2 separate regions of the Homo sapiens genome follow, and region 1 is linked to region 2. A link means that fine-mapping ties the variant in region 2 to the expression of a gene that starts in the linked region. Tissue or cell type: whole blood. Region 2 holds a variant in brackets; the other region holds the start of a gene. All regions are shown on one strand. Distances are between the middles of the regions.

What was found. PIP is the estimated chance that this variant, and not a neighbour inherited with it, causes the effect.
Region 1: it holds the start of GSPT1, and the variant in region 2 is fine-mapped to the expression of GSPT1 in whole blood (TOPMed, PIP above 0.99). The same link has a PIP of 0.9 or more in lung.

Annotation. Positions count from the first base shown.
Region 1 is chr16:11,911,929-11,919,918 of GRCh38, forward strand. It overlaps GSPT1 (G1 to S phase transition 1), which reads right to left and starts at 4,028. Exons shown (of 15, transcript NM_002094.4): 1 at 3,441-4,028. The coding sequence starts at 3,792. RefSeq lists silencers at 3,158-3,207, 3,248-3,487, 3,578-3,647, 4,358-4,417 and enhancers at 3,472-4,409, 4,018-4,167, 5,468-5,968.
Region 2 is chr16:11,856,098-11,864,087 of GRCh38, forward strand. No RefSeq gene overlaps it. Among named protein-coding and RNA genes, the nearest start is that of RSL1D1, 8.6 kb to the left of the region's middle. The variant A/G (reference allele first, on the strand shown) is at 3,718.

The sequences.
Region 1 (7,990 bases), 56 kb after region 2:
GCAATCCTCTCACCTCAGCCTCCCAGAGTGTTGGGTTTATAAGTGTGAGCCAATGCGCCCAGCTTGTACAGTTGAAAAGGGTGAATTTTACAGTGTGTAAGTTAAATGTCAATCATTTAAAAAAAAAAAAAAAAAAGGCCAGGCGCGGTCACACCTGTAATCCCGGCACTTTGGGAGGCCAAGGCGGGCAGATCACCTGAGGTCAAGAGTTCAAGACCAGCCTAGCCAACATGGTGAAACCCCATCCCTGCAAAAACACACACACACAAAATAGCTGGGCATGATGGCAGGTGCCTGTAATCCCAGCTACTCGGGAGGCTGAGGCAGGAGAATTGCTTGAACCTGGGAGGAGGAGGTTGTAGTCAGCCGAGATCGTGCCATTGCACTCCAGCCTGGGCAACAGAGCAAGACTCCGTCTCAAAAAAAAAAAAAAACAAAAAAAAAACCTCCTCTTCCAATAAATAAGGCATTCAGCAAATACGGAACACTACAAAACAGAATGTTTCTCTTTAAAATTCAAGTTCCACAATACAATCTGCTAAGTTTTGGAGACAGTGCCTCCTCCAAGTAAGTACTGAGGGCTGCTGGTTTTATTCCATGCTTGTTTCTTAATGGCAGTGAGTTCTGAGAAGCATTAAAGGTGGGATGATGCAAAGAACACCACATCATTACTTTAGAAGCTCTGGCTGTTCTAAAAAGTTCAAGTAACCCTAAAATTACTAAACCAGTTTCTTATCTAACAATAAAAAAAACTAGGTGCAAATTGCAACTTAAATACATCCTATCAGATAAAATGCTTGTTCTAATATACATTAAGCCTTGTCTTCTATATTTTTATTCACTTGGGGACCTCACTTTTTAAGGAGAATCTCTTGGCCAATTTACTTGGCTCTAGAGAACTGTGCTTAAATGAATTACACTTAATTACACTTAAATGGGTTCCACTTAATTATTTCTTAAGGAACCTATATTCTTTAGTTTTCAAAGAGATCCAAGGTCAATACTGAATCCCAAGGTCTGACTCTCCAGGCTCCTTCAACAGCTTTCCCGGCATGCAGTTTAAAAACACACCCAGCACAAATTTCGGCTATGGCTTAACTAAAGAACAGAACATGCTAGCCCTATTGTCCACTTCCTCGCTATCAAAAAAACCTTGCAAACTTTTTGGTTCCCCCTTTGTAAGTTCCAATCCAGGTGTTATTTCCTATTTATCCCCCTGCTTTTTATAAGCACTGATTGTTCTCCGATGCTGGCTTTTTATGGACTTAATAGTCTGGAACATGCAATCCAACAGTCTCAATATAACCCTGGACCTCAACTTAGAAAATCAGTTCTTTTCCAAATAGACATCCTACATAGGATAATTTTTTAAAAACATGAACTGGCATTTTGGTACAAGCAATTGGTAAAGTCGGTAACACCAAAATAGTTTTTTGATTAAAAACAAGAAAGTTGACCATGCTGTACGGATTCTCTTACTGACAGCTACTTCCCTACAGGTTTTCGCATCTCCAATTTCTAGCACTGTCAAAGAGAAAAAGATTAGGTGTAACTACAAATTAGCAACTATCAGGAAGAGAGAAAGCCCGCATAAGAGGTAATACCTAGTCACCAACAGTGACCATTCTAGACCAAGGTTGGTTATCCCCGGATGACTCGCTGGACAGGCTGTAAATGGAGTCCTGAGTCTAGTCAGAGTGGTGCTGGTGGCTCCACAGAAAGGAGGAAGAGCCAAGAAAGAAAATGGCTGGATAAACGGAATCTGCAAAGTAAGGTAGGGAATGGGCACTTTTAGGAGCTGAGAAGTGAACTAGGTTAGGCAGTCAAAATGGCTTGATGTAAGTCAAGAATTACAAGCTAAGCTTCCTTATTCAAGAGGAAAACATTGTCTAGAGCCGTACCACCCTGAAAGTGCTCGATCTCCTCAAAAGAAAACATCAACCACCCACACAAATAAATGCCACTGTCAACAAAACCACCAAATCAACCGTGCTGACGTACATACGTCATCAGAGTGTTTCTCCAGACACTATCCCTTTACCACGAAAGAGCAAACGGTGACAAAAGTTTCTGTAGAAACCAAACTCCTGGAGCACTTTTATAATGTCCACTTATCTAAGAACCACCACAATACAGAACTTTAAAGAGAGAAATCAACAATATGTTCTCACTTAAAATGCGCTGGATGTCATGACCCACCCCACTAACGTCCTGGCTAAATGATGAAAGGACGTTCAGCCTTTTCCTTCCTTTTTCATTTTCTCTTTAAGGAAACACTGATAGTTCCTAAAATAAGCACCATTAGGAAGAGAATACTTAAGTTCACTCATTTGACATTCCCACAAAATCAGTACCTGAAAGCAAGCTACCTACCACAAAATAAGCACCATTATGAGAATACATAAGTTCACTCACCGGATATTCCTACAACGTCAGCACCTGCAAGCATGCTACCTACGACTTAAGCAACCCCTAAGTACGGGAAGATGTTTAAAAACCAAAGTTAACTCGAAATTTTATGGATTAGAAAATGTATGTCTACTAGCTACGGTCAGAAAGACACGTGAGAACTATTAAATTATAACAAATGCTCAAGTGTCTGAAGAAATAGACTGAACTACTGATGCACGAACACAGTGAGTTATTCCAAGCAATCTGAATAAGGTCAACGATTTTACAGCAATGAAAATTCTCTAAACGTGTCGCTGACAAAGGATAAAAGTGTAAGCTTCACTTTAAAAAGACACAAATCAATATAGTCTCCTATCACACATTAAGTGAGGAATCCTAACTTTGTGGCACTTTGTAAACTTTAGAAGCGTACACAATGCTAAGGGTAAAACAGATCTTGGTATTGATAGCCAAGTTTCTGCCCGATCACAAGGCTGCAATGCATCTTGGGATTCCTTCAGGACGGTTGGGGGCCACGGACAGTTTAAACCGTAATTACAGTTTCAATAGTAGAAAACGCAGCAGAAGACGCTCTCTCGGCTGGGCCTAAGGTGAAAGGAAAACTCGGCCATTCGTCCTCCCCAACTCCTGGGATCTCTAAACGCCCACCCAAATGACTCCTGGCTCCATCTGTCCTCATTCTGCGCCTCGTGGCAGGGATCCGCCGCGGCCCCCACTCCGTTCCATACGGTTCCCATCTCAAGTGGGTAACTGCGGACTCCAGAGCAGGGCAGGGGCGCGGAGGGGCGGCACTCGGGTCCGGGTCTTTGGGCGCGCTGCCCGCTGTCCGCTCCCCGCCCGGCCACCGCCGCGGGCCGCCCCGCGAAGGCCGGCTCCCGGGCTCGGGGCGCCCCACCCAGGCAGACGGCGCCACTGTCAGCGCCCCACGTGCCGACCGGGCCCCAGGGCCGCGCGCCCCCGGACCGCACCCCTACGCCATGTGGGCTCCGGCGCCCGGCCGGACTTCCTCCCGCGTCCCGGGCCTTTACCCGCACGGCCTCCCGCGCCGCTGCCGGCTCCGTGGTTATTGGCGGCGCCGCCAACTGGGGGTGGCGGCGCTGCCGGGCCCCGCAGGAAGGACGGCACGAACTCGGCGGCGTGGACGTTGGGCACGAAGGGCTTGGCGTTGACGTTGAGTTGCCGGCTGAAGGCCGCGCTGAGGTTCTCCCGCTGGGCCTCGGCCGCCGCCGCCAGGGAGCCGCCGCCGCCGCAAGGGCCCGGCCCGGGGGCTTCCATGTCCGCCTGGTCCCAGCAGTCAGGCGCCGAGTCGCTGCTGCTGCTGCCGCTGCTGCTCCCGCCGCCGCCGCCGCCGCCGCCGCCGCCGCCACTGCCCGGATCCATGATCGGGGGGGCCGTGTGTGTGGTGGACAGAGAGCGGGAAATGGAGGCAGGGGCGCCCGGCCGGAGAGGAGTGGGCAACGCTGACTGAGGGAAGGCGGCGGGGCAGAAGGGCCGGGAGCTAGCGACAAAGATCCCCGGCGTCGCCGCGGCAGCAGCTCCAGTCCCGACTCCACACTCGCGACGACGACAGAGGCGGCGGCGGCGGCAGCTCAACCCTCCTCCTCGTGTGTGTGAGCGGATCTCCTCCCACCCAACCACCTCCGACGGCCTCACAGCCAACCCCACCCCCGGCGCGGATTGACCCCTCGCCGCCACCCGTACCTTCGCCTCGGTAGTTCTCTGTTCTGGCCGCCCCCGTTTCCGGCTATTTAGCGCGGCGGGAGGTGGAACTACAAGTTCCGGCAGCGCCCGCGCTACCCCGCTGCGGTTTTCCCGGGGGCCGACGGGAGTCGAAGTTCAGGGACAGGGCGCAACCGGAAGCGGCTCCGGCTCCCGGCAGGCAACGCGAGGAGGCGGAGGTCTGGTGGCCGCTCGGCGGCCCCACCTGTCACCTGGTGGGGGGGCAGCGGCAGGCCCTGGTTGGTGCAGCTCTGTGCTGGGCCGAAGACCGAGAGTATTTTAGCCCATAGGAGGGGTCCACTCTGGCCTGCTGGACACAGGCTGGGGGAAAACGGACAGCATCTATAACATGGGGAAGAAAAATACACTCAGCTCCCGAAAATTCTTGTACTCTCTTTTCACCACCTTTCCTGCGTTCTCTGCCTCACAGTCTCCGTACCTTATTCTCTCTCCACCTTCTTTCTCCTCACCCCCAGCCAGATTTTGCCCTTCATTTCAAAGCCGGTGCAGATTGCAAAGCTGATTTCATTTTATGTAATCATTTCGTGGAAGAAACAATAAAACCGTGAGATATTCCGGCTTAAAACTGCAGTGTGGCTCATAAAGCGCTGGGGCCCAGGCTCTGCCCAGGCAGAAGGGATTGTTAACTGGAAAATTTCAATGACTCACCGTTTGTTTGACTAGTCATATAAAGCCTTCACCCAAATTTTTCCATCCTTTCCTCCTCCCCGCCAAAGGGTTTGCAAATTAAACAGAGGATTGCCGTATTCCATGGTGTATCCGGCTTACCTAACAGGGTTATTTTGGTGAGTCTAGCTTCCTTATGCACCATTACGTGAAGTGGTTTCCTTTTGAATGGTCTGATTTGCTCAAGAATTCCCATAGTACTTTTCATCGACTGCATCTTACACTTACAGATTAGGTAAACCTGGGAAAAGAACAAAAGCAAACGAGAAATACTTAAGAGTTCGCATTTAGGCCCTTCATGAAGTAGGAAAAAATGTTGCTCTGAGTACCTGTTAAGCTTTCCTGTAATTCACCCATGTGGAGCCCAAGACAGAGAAAAACATATTGTTAGTATTTTTCTGAAAGGAGTCTAGACAGGGTGCAACTAATCTGCCTAGAAATTACAGACTAAAGAAGCACATACATAGAATAGATGTTTCTGAACAACCTTAGGTTGTTAAAAAAAAAAAAAACCTAACAAAATCCAGATCTAGATCTGTATTTTAATTTTCTTTTTTCTTTTTTTTGAGACGGAGTCTTGCTCTGTAGCCCAGGCTGGAGTGCAGTGGCGCGATGTCGGCTCGCTGCAAGCCCGCCTCCCGGGTTCACAACATTCTCCTGCCTCAGTCTCCGGAGTAGCTGGGACTAGAGGCGCCCGCCATCACGCCCGGCTAATTTTTTTTGTATTGTTATTAGAGACGAGGTTTACACCGTGTTAGACAGGATGGTCTGGATCTCCTGACCTCGTGATCCGCTCGTCTCGGCCTCCCAAAGTGCTGGGATTACAGGCGTGAGCCACCGCGCCCGGCCGATCTGTATTTTAATTTTAAACATCTGTATTGTAAAGATAAAAGAGAACTCAGCCTAATGAGATAGGTCAAAAACGAAGCTGTCAAGTATTTTTCAAAAGAGTCCTAGGCTACAGTAATTTGAATTTAATATTAAACTACCAAGCTTTAGGGATTAAAAAAACACATACCGGCCAGGCGCAGTGGCTCACACCTGTAATCTCAGCAATTTGGGAGGCCGAGGCAGATGGATCACGTGAGGTCAGGAGTTCGAGACCAGCCTGGCCAACGTGGTGGAACCCCCGTCTCTACTAAAAATACAAGTTAGGCCGGGCGCGGTGGCTCACGCCTGTAATCCCAGCACTTTGGGAGGCCAAGGTGGGCGGATCACGAGATCAGGAGATTGAGACCATCCTGGCTAACACGGTGAAACCCTGTCTCTACTGAAAATACAAAAAATTAGCCGGGCGTGGTGTGCGGGCGTCTGTATTGCCAGCTACTCAGGAGGCTGAGGCAGGAGAATGGCGTGAAACCAGGAGGCGGAGCCTGCAGTGAGCCGAGATCGCGCCACTGCACTCCAGCTTGAGCGACAAAGCGAGACTCTGTCTCAAAAAACAAACAAAAAAAGCGATCCACCTGCCTCAGCTTCCCAAAGTGCTGGGCTTATCGGTGTGAGCCACCACACCCGGCAGAGTTTGCCTCTGCTTAATAGGAAGTTTTGGTTATAGCCTATTATTATACCTGAAGACCTCACTGAATCATACTTAACAATGTCCATTTTAAAGTTGGTATTAAGTGACTGTCAGATTTACAGAGAACTTAACAACTGTTATGAAAATTAGAACTTCATTTATGCGAGACCTGTATTGCTATTGAATAAAAGATTTTCATCTTATATTCACAAGAAAAAATACAATGTGTTCTAAATGAAATGCCTTCTCTTTCCAGATTTTCACTCCCCACCCACCCACCCCTAAGAAAATGTCAACACAATCAGCTGACTCAAATAATGAACTACACATCCTTCTCTAAGCATTTTGTCTTTGAATACTACTCTCCTCCATGTAGCACTCCTACAGCACTGAATGATCACTTTCTCATAGGTTAGTTCTTCACATCTAATTGAATTAGCAGAGTTTCCTTCTGCCTGGTACTTTTTCTAGGGACAAAGGCAGAAACTGCTCAGACTGCTGCTTAGAAAAGCAGTTGATGTCATTAATTTCCTTGTCTCTGAATAGGATAATTATGGATATTCAGGAAAAAATCCACTCCATTGGTTTTCCAAAGCTTTGACCTGCCAAACAGAGCTCCAGCGGAAAAGGGAAAAGTCTTTCTTGTTAGTTGTGCTAAGTTGTGTGTAAGTTGTGCGACTTGAGGGCAGGGTCTTACCTTAATCTTCTTTACATTTCCACTGCCTAGTGTAATGCCCGGTGTATAAAAGGTGCTTAATCAATTTAGCTGGGATGATACTGTCCTTTGATACTCATTTAAGACTGCTGACACATAGGGCTAATAATTTTATTTATTTATTTATTTTTTAAATAACTTGAGACTCTTGAGACAGAGTCTCGCTCTGTCGCCCAGGCTAGAGTGCAGTGGTATGATCTCAGCTCACTGCAACTTCCACCTCCCAGGTTCAAGCGATTCTCCCACCTCAGCCTCCTGAGTAGCTGGGATTACAGGTGTGCACCACCACGCCCAGCTAATTTTTGTATTTTTAACAGAGACGGGGTTTCACCATGTTGGCCAGGATGGTCTCAATTTCTTGACCTTGTGATCTGCCCTCCTTGGCCTCCCAAACTGTTGGGATTACAGGCGTGAGCCACCACGCCTGGCCTGTATTTTTTTTTAGTAGAGACAGGGTTTCACCTTGTTGGCCAGGCTGGTTTCAAACTCCTGATCTCAAGTGATCTGCCTGCCTTGGGCTCCTAAAGTGCTAGGATTACAGATGTGAGCCACCGCACTTAGCTATTTTAATTTAATTTAATTTTATTTTTTGAGATGGAGTCTTGCTCTGTTGCCCAGGCTGGAGTGCAGTGGAGCAATCTTCACGCACTGCAACCTCTACCTCCCAAGTTCAAGCAATTCTCCTGCCTCAGCCTCCTGAGTAGCTGGGATTATAGGTGCCCGCCACCCCCCCTCCCCAACCCCCTGGTAATTTTTCTATTTTTAGTAGAGACAGGGTTTCACCATATTGCCCAGGCTGATCTGGAACTACTGACCTCAAGTGATCCTCCTGCCTCAGCCTCCCAACGTGCTAGGATTACAGGCATGAGCCACCACACCCCACCCCAGGACTAATAATTTAGAAAACTTAGGAAAAATCAGAGTTTTTCCTACTCTCA
Region 2 (7,990 bases):
AGCTGGGATTACAGGCACGCGCCACGGTGCCTGGCAAATTTTTGTATTTTTAGTAGAGACGGGGTTTCACCATGTTGGCCAGGCTGGGCTCGAGCCCCTGACCTCAAGTGATCCACCCACCTCCGGCTCCCAAAGTGCTGGGATTACAGGCATGAACCACCGCTCCCGGCCCCTCTTGTGTTTTCTGTTTCCATCATTGGTACCACCAAGCCAAATATGAGAGTTATTCTTAACTCTTTCCTTCTCATCCCCCAAACATAGTCAATAACAAAGTCTTGCTTGTTCCTTTTTTTTTTTTTTTTGAGATGGAGTCTCACTCTGTAGCCCAGGCTGGAGTGCACTGGCGCAATCTCATCTCACTGCAGCCTCCACCTCATGGGTTCAAGCAATTCTCCTGCCTCAGCCTCCCAAGTAACTGGGATTACAAGCGTGTGCCACCATGCTCCGCTAATTTTTGTATTTTTAGTAGTGATGGGGTTTCACCGTGTTGGCCAGGCTGGTCTTGAACTCCTGACCTCAAGTGATTCTCCTGCCTCTGCCCTCCAAAGTGCTGGGATTACAGGCATGAGCCACTGCACCGAGCCCTTGTTTATTCTTTTTAAATGTCTCTTGCATGTATCCAATTCTTTTTATTCCTGCCACGTTGTGGTAGAGGACATTATCATGTATTTGTTTTTTGTTTTTTGCTTAGATTACTGCAACAACCTCTTAACTTGTCTTCCCACATCTACTTTTGCATCTTTTATTTTTATTTATTTTAGTTTTGGGACAAGGTCTCACTCTGTCGCGCAGGCTGGAGTGTGGTGGGGTGATCACAGCTCACTGCAGCCTCAACCTCCTGGACTCAAGTGATCCTCCCACCTCAGACTCCCAAGTAGCTGAAATTACAGGTGTGTGCCACCATGTCCGCCTAATTTTTTAACTTTTTTGTAGAGATGGGGTTCTCCCTATGTTACCCAGGCTGATCTCGAACTCCTGGGCTCAAGTGATCCTCCCACCTAGGCCTCCCAGAGTGTTGGGATTACAGGTGTGAGCCATCACTTCCAGCCTAATTTTGCATCTTACAGTCCATTCTCTACCCGTCGGATGGCGTAATCTTTTTAAAATTGAAATCTGATCATATCAAACTGTGCTGCATCACCTTCATTGGATTCTTGTCATTAGGATGAGGCATATTCCTTAATTTGCCTTGTATGTATCACAGTTTGCATCTCTTGTCTGGCATCCTGTGTAGTTTAGTATTTGTCCAAGAAAATAGTGTTGCAGTTTGAAAGATAAATCATATGGACTGGGCATGGTGACTCATGCCTGTAATCCTAGCACTTTGGGAGGCCGAGGTAGGATTTCTTGAGCTTAGGAGTTCAAAGCTGCAGTTAGCTATGCTTGTGCTACTGTACTCCAGCTTGGGTGACAGAGTGAGACCCTGTCTAAAAAAAAATAAGTAAAAATTTTTAAAAGATAAGTAACATGGTCACTCTCAACATGGTAGGCACTCTTCATCTGGTCCCTTTCTTTTTATCTCTCTAACTTCATACCCTGCCACTCAACCCTTCAATCTTTAAGTCCTAGTTTCAACTCTGCAGGTTCTACTTTTCTTCATACCTTCCAATGTACTGTCACTTCTTCCTGGAACACTATCACCTTGTACCTCCATATCCCATCCCCACATATATTAACTCATCCTTCTAATTTCTGCTTCAGATTACTTCTGGAGAATTGTAGCTTAGATAATCCTGTCCTTTTACCCCAAAATATTTATAGTTTTCCTACTATAATTGGCTCTCCCCCATTTGACGATAAGCTTTGAGAGGGTAGAAGAGAGCCAGTTAATGGTAGGAAAACTACAAATGGTATCTTCACTATTTTTCCTTATTTATTTATTATAAGTGACATAAATAGTATTTCTTTAGAATGAATAATGCATTAGAATGGCCTGAGACAGGGCTTAAGGGGATGAACATAGGAAACTATTGTGGTATCAAGATCTGATGGTAGGGTGATAGTGAGGACAGGGTACTTATACTGCTTGACCTGAGCTTGGACATAGAAGGAGAGAAATGTAGATTACTCCCTAATTCTAAGAGCCTGAAAAGCTGGGCAAATGGGTGGTATTAATAGAACTGGGGAAGAAAGGAGGAGCAGCAGATTTAGAGGGAAAACATAAGATTCCTTTTCAGTAGAGTGCTGTACCACATAATGATGTTTCTTTCAACAACAGACCCACATACATGGTCACGTAAGATCATAATGGAGCTGAAAAATTCCTGTCACCTAGTGATGTCATAGCCATCATAATGTCAGCGCATTCCTCACGTTTGTGGTGATGCTGGTATAAACAAACCTGCACTGCCCCCAAGTATGGCAAATATAATTATGTACAGTACATAATTACTTGATAATAATAAACAACTATGTTACTGGTTTATGTATGTACTATACTGTATTTTTTTTTTTAGGGATGGGATCTTACTACATTGCCCAGGCTGTTCTTGAACTCCTGAGCTCAAGTGGTCCTCCTGCCTTAGCCTCCTGAAGTGTTGGGCATGAGATTACAGGGGTGAGCCACCATGCCCTGCTATACTGTACTTTTTTTTTTTTTTTTTTTTTTTTTTGAGACAGAGTCTCACTCTGTCACCCAAGGTGGAGTGCAGTGGCACAATCTCAGCTCACTGCAACTTCCACCTCCTGGGCTCAAGCGATTCTCCTGCCTCAGCCTCCCGAGTAGCTGGGATTACAGGCGTCTGCTGCCATACCCAGCTAATTTTTGTATTTTTAATAGAGATGGAGTTTCGCCATGTTGGCCAGGCTGGTCTTGAACTCCTGGCCTCAGGTGATCTGCCTGCCTCAGACTCCCGAGGTGCTGGGATTACAGGCGTGAGCCACCACACCCGGCCTATACTATACTTTTTATAGTTATTTTAGAGTGTATCCCTTCTACTTATAAAAAAAAAGTTAACTGTAAAACAGCCTCAGAGAGGTCCTTCAGGAGATATTCCAGAAGAAGGCATTGTTACCATAGGAGATGACAACTCCATGTGTCAGTGTCAGTGTCCTTGAACACCTTCTAATGGGACAGATAAGATGTGGAAGTAGAAGACAGTTGATATTGATGATCCTGACTCTGTGTAGTCATAGGCCTAGGTGTGTGTTTGTGTCTTCTTTTTATTTTATTTTATTTTATTTTATTTTAGCTTGCTTTCTCTCTCTCTCTCCGCCAACCCCCCCCCTCCCACCGCCCGCCTTCTTTCTTTCTTTTCTTTCTTTTTTAGTAGAGACAAGTTCTCGCTCTGTTGCCCAGGCTGGTCTCAAACTCCTGGGCTCAAGCGATCCTACCGCCTCGACCTCCCAAAGTGCTGGGATTACAGGTGTGAGCCACTGTGCCCAGCCTGTGTTTACTTTTTTTTTTTTTTTTTTTTTTTTTTTTTTGAGACAGAGTCTTGCTCTGTGGCCCAGGCTGGAGTGTAATGGAGCGATCTTGGCTCACTGCAACCTCCACCTCCCGGGTTCAAGCGATTCTCCTGCTTCAGCCTCCTGCGTAGCTGGGATTACAGGCACATGCTACCACGCCTGGCTAATTTTTGTATTTTTAGTGGAGACAGGGTTTCACTGTGTTAGCTGGGATGGTCTCAATCTCCTGACCTCGTGATCTGCCCACCTCCGCCTCTCAAAATGCTGGGATTACAGGCGTGAACTACTGCGCCCAGCCTTTCATTTTTA[A/G]TAAAAACGCTTTAAAAGGGGCAGGTGCGGTGGCTCACACCTGTAATCCCAGCACTTTGGGAGGCTGAGGCGGGCAGATCACCTAAGGTCAGGAGTTCCGAGACCAGTCTGGCCAACATGATGAAACCCCATCTCTACTAAAAATACAAAACTTAGCCGGGAGTAGTGGCAGGTGCCTGTAATCCCAGCTACTGGGGAGGCTGAGGCAGGAGAATAGCTTGAACCCGGGAGGCGGAGGTTGCAGCAAGCCGAGATCACCCCATTGCACTCCAGCCTGGGTGACAGAGCGAGATTCCATCTAAAAAAAAAAAGTTTAAAAACGAAAAAAAGGCCGGGCATGGATCACGCCTGTAATCCCAGCACTTTGGGAGGCTGAGGCGGGTGGATCACGAGGTCAGGAGATTGAGACCATCCTGGCTAATATGGTGAAACCCCGTCTCTACTAAAAATAAAAATAAAAAAATTAGCCGGGTGTGGTGGCATGCACCTGTAGCCCAGCTACTTGGGAGGCTGAAGCAGGAGAATCGCTTGAACCCGGGAGGTGGAGGTTGCAGTGAGCAGAGATTGCGCCACTGCACTCCAGCCTGGGCGATAGAGTGAGACTCCGTCTCAATAAAGAAAAAAAAGGAAAAAAAAATTAAAAATTTCAAAAATAGAGAAAAGCTTACAGAGTAAGGATATAAAGAAAAATATTTTTGTGCAGCTGTACAAAGTGTTTGTGTTTTAAGCAAAGTGTTAACTACAAAAGAGTCACAAAGTTAAAAATGTAAGTTTATAAAGTAAAAATGTTACAGTAAGCCAAGGTTAATTTATTATTGAAGAAAGAAAAAATTTTTAAAGCCAGGCTCAGTGGTGTGTGCCTGTTGTCGTAACTACTCAGGAGGCTGAGGCAGGAGGATCGCTTGAGCCTGGGAGTTCAAGTTCAGTCTAGACAATATAGTGAGACCCCTGTCTCAAAAAAAAAAGAAAAATAAATCTAGTGTACGTAAGTGTACAGTGTTTGTAAGTCTATAGTGGTGTACAGTAATGTCCTAGGCCTTCGCATTCACTCACTTATTCACCCAGAGCAACTTCCAGTCCTGCAAGCGCCATTCATGATAAGTGCCCTATACAGGTGTGCCATTTTTAATGTTTTATACTGTATTTTTGCTGTATATTTTAGATACAGTTGCCTACAGTATTTAGTACAGTAACATGCTGTACAGGTTTGTAGCCCAGGAGCAATAGGCTGTATCACATAGCATAGGTGTGTAGCAAGCCATACCATTTAGGTTTGTGTGAGTACACCGATATTCCCACAACTATAAAGTCATCCAAAGACGCATGTCTAAGGATGTATCCTCATTAAGCAACCCATGACTGTATTTTGAGTTTGAAGTTCCAATGGTACATCTAAATGGATCTGGAATGTGGAAGAGAATATTCCTGAACTAAAAAGAAGGAAATTAGAAGTCATTTTCATGGAGGTGATGATTAAAGCTTTGTTAATAGGTGAGATTGCAAAAAAAAAGTCTAGACGAATAATAGAGTTGTAAAGAAACCTTCAATAACAAACAAGGAGGAAACAGAGAAATAGTTGAAGATGTAAAAGAAAACCAATTTAGGAGGCTGATGCAGCCGGATTACTTGAGCTCAGGAGTTCAAGACTGCCCTGGGCAACATAATGAGATCCTGTCTCTACAAAAAATAGAAAAATTAGATGGGTACGGTGGCATATGCCTGTGTCCCAAATACTCGTGATGCTGAAATGGGAGGATTGCTTGAGCCCAGGGGGTTGACGCTACATTGAGCCATGATTGCGCCGCTGCACTCCAGCCTAGGCAACAGAGCAAGACTTTGTCTCAAAAAAAAAAAGAAAGAAAGAATGAAGGCCGGGCGCAGTGGCTCAGGCCTGTAATCCCAGCACTCTGGGAGGCCAAGGTGGGCAGATCACGAGGTCAGGAGATTGAGATCATCCTGGCTAACACGACGAAACCCTGTCTCTACTAAAAATACAAAAAATTAGCCGGGGATGGTGGCACGCGCCTGTAGTCCCAGCTACTCAGGAGGCTGAGGCAGGAGAATGGCTTGAACACGGGAGGCAGAGGTTGCAGTGAGCTGAGATTGCGCCACTGCACTCCCACTCCAGCCTGGGCGACAGATCGAGACTCCATCTCAAAAAAAAAAAAAAAAAGAATGCAAACCAAGAGGGTGCCAAGTTACAGAAGCCATGAGGGAGTGGAGATATCTGAAGATGTGTTAACACTGTTAAATATTGAAGGTGAGAAGAATACATAATAATAAAAGACCATATTGTCAGCACCACAAGACAGGGTGAAAAAATTAAAAAATAAATAAATAGGCCAGGCGTGGTGGCTCACACCTGTAATCCCAGCACTTTGGGAGGCTGAGGAAGGAGGATTGCTTGAGGCCAGGAGTTCTAGACTAGTCTGGATAACATAGTGAATCCTCATTTCTACAAAAACCAATGTAATTAATTTCAACATTCGAGTACCCAGGTCTCACTGATACCATGAATACTATTAAGTTGTTTCTCTTGGAAAGTACTGAGATATCTCTCTTCAAACTTCTTGAAAATCTTTTTTGGAGGTACATAAAGTTAATTTTATTAGGGATTTGGTAAATCAACTAATTGTAAAGAACATTCGAATATGTTGCTGAATGCTAAACATAAAGTTTAAGAAACTTCACCCTTAATAATGGAACTCATATTCTAGTTCAAAATAAATATTACAATCAACTAGTAACCTTAGAAAACTATTAGACATCGTTTTTTATATAGCACTATTAAATCAGTGGTAACACATGGCCAACTAACAAAAGAAACGCCACATAGTCAATTGGTGATGTCTGGATTATCTGAAAGCAATTTAATACTCAGCATATTCTTGGTACTGAAATCTGCTAAGTAATATTAACCTAAACATAATTGAATCAAAGGTAAAACAATATTGCCCAAATGTAGAATGTGACATTTTAAGGAAGGTACAAAGGACATGGTGTTTTGGGTCAGAAAGATCAGTCTGAATCCCAACTCCATGATTTACTAATTGTTTAGCCTTGGGCAAGGTGGCTTAATCTCCCAAGCCTCAATGTCTTCATCTGTTAAATGAAGCTGGTTCCCTCGGATTTAAGAGAATCTATCTTCACAGTGTCTGTCATGTTCATGATAGCACAAGGTTAGTTCTCTTCTTCCCTTTGCTGAAAATAATACAATCATTATTAAATGGATTGGAAAATGAAATTGTTCATCTTAGGGGCCAAAAGAGCTTAACTGCATTCAAGCAGGGAAGAAATAGCCAATCAGTAAAGAAACTGATATTTGATTCTGATTTGGGGGCGAGGGGGTGGAAGGCTGGGGAAGAGAAACAAGAGAAATATGATATTGCCAGAGAAAGAAATGTAAAGAGGTTTTCTGTAGAAAACCTGACTTTATTAACTTAGGTTTGCTGTTTATTTTTAACTCTTTGTCCTCATACAATCTATGTGGGTATCACAAGTACACCATTTTGCTGCTAGGTATCATAGTGTACACCAACCCCACTTAATACATGATTAACAAACAGGCTTTTTTTTTTTTTTTTTGAGACGGAGTCTCACTCTGTCGCCCAGGCTGGAGCGCAGTGGCGCAGTCTCGGCTCACTGCAAGCTCTGCCTGCTGGGTTCACGCCATTCTCCTGCCTCAACCTCCCAAGTAGCTGGGAATACAGGTGCCCGCCACTATGCTCGGCTAATTTTTTTTTTTTCGTATATTTAGTAGAGACGGGGTTTCACCGTGTTAGCCAGGATGGTCTCGATCTCCTCACCTTGTGATCCACCCGCCTCGGCCTCCCAAAGTGCTGGGATTACAGGCGTGAGCCACCGCGCCCGGCCAGGAATGGAATATTAAGGCCACTCTTAGAAGTGATTTCTACATTTAAAAAAAATAGGTTAAATAGCACAAGGTTAGTTCTCTTCTCCTGCCCTTTGCTGAAAGGGATGCCATTAGTCTCTTTTTATCATTGACGCGAACCAGCTGACAACTTGCAGGACTGTGTTCTTTTAACCAGTACCAGTATATAACTGGTAAATGTTATGACAACTCAAAGTGCATCTTTGTTCAAACTAGGAAAGTTTTTTTTTTTTTTTTTTGAGATGGAGCCTCTCTCTGTTGCCCAGGCTGGAGTGCAGTGGCGCGATCTCAGCTCACTGCAACCTCTGCCTCCTGGGGTCAAGCAATTCTCCTACCTCAGCCTCCGAGTAGCTGGGATTACAGGCAAGTGCCACCATGCCT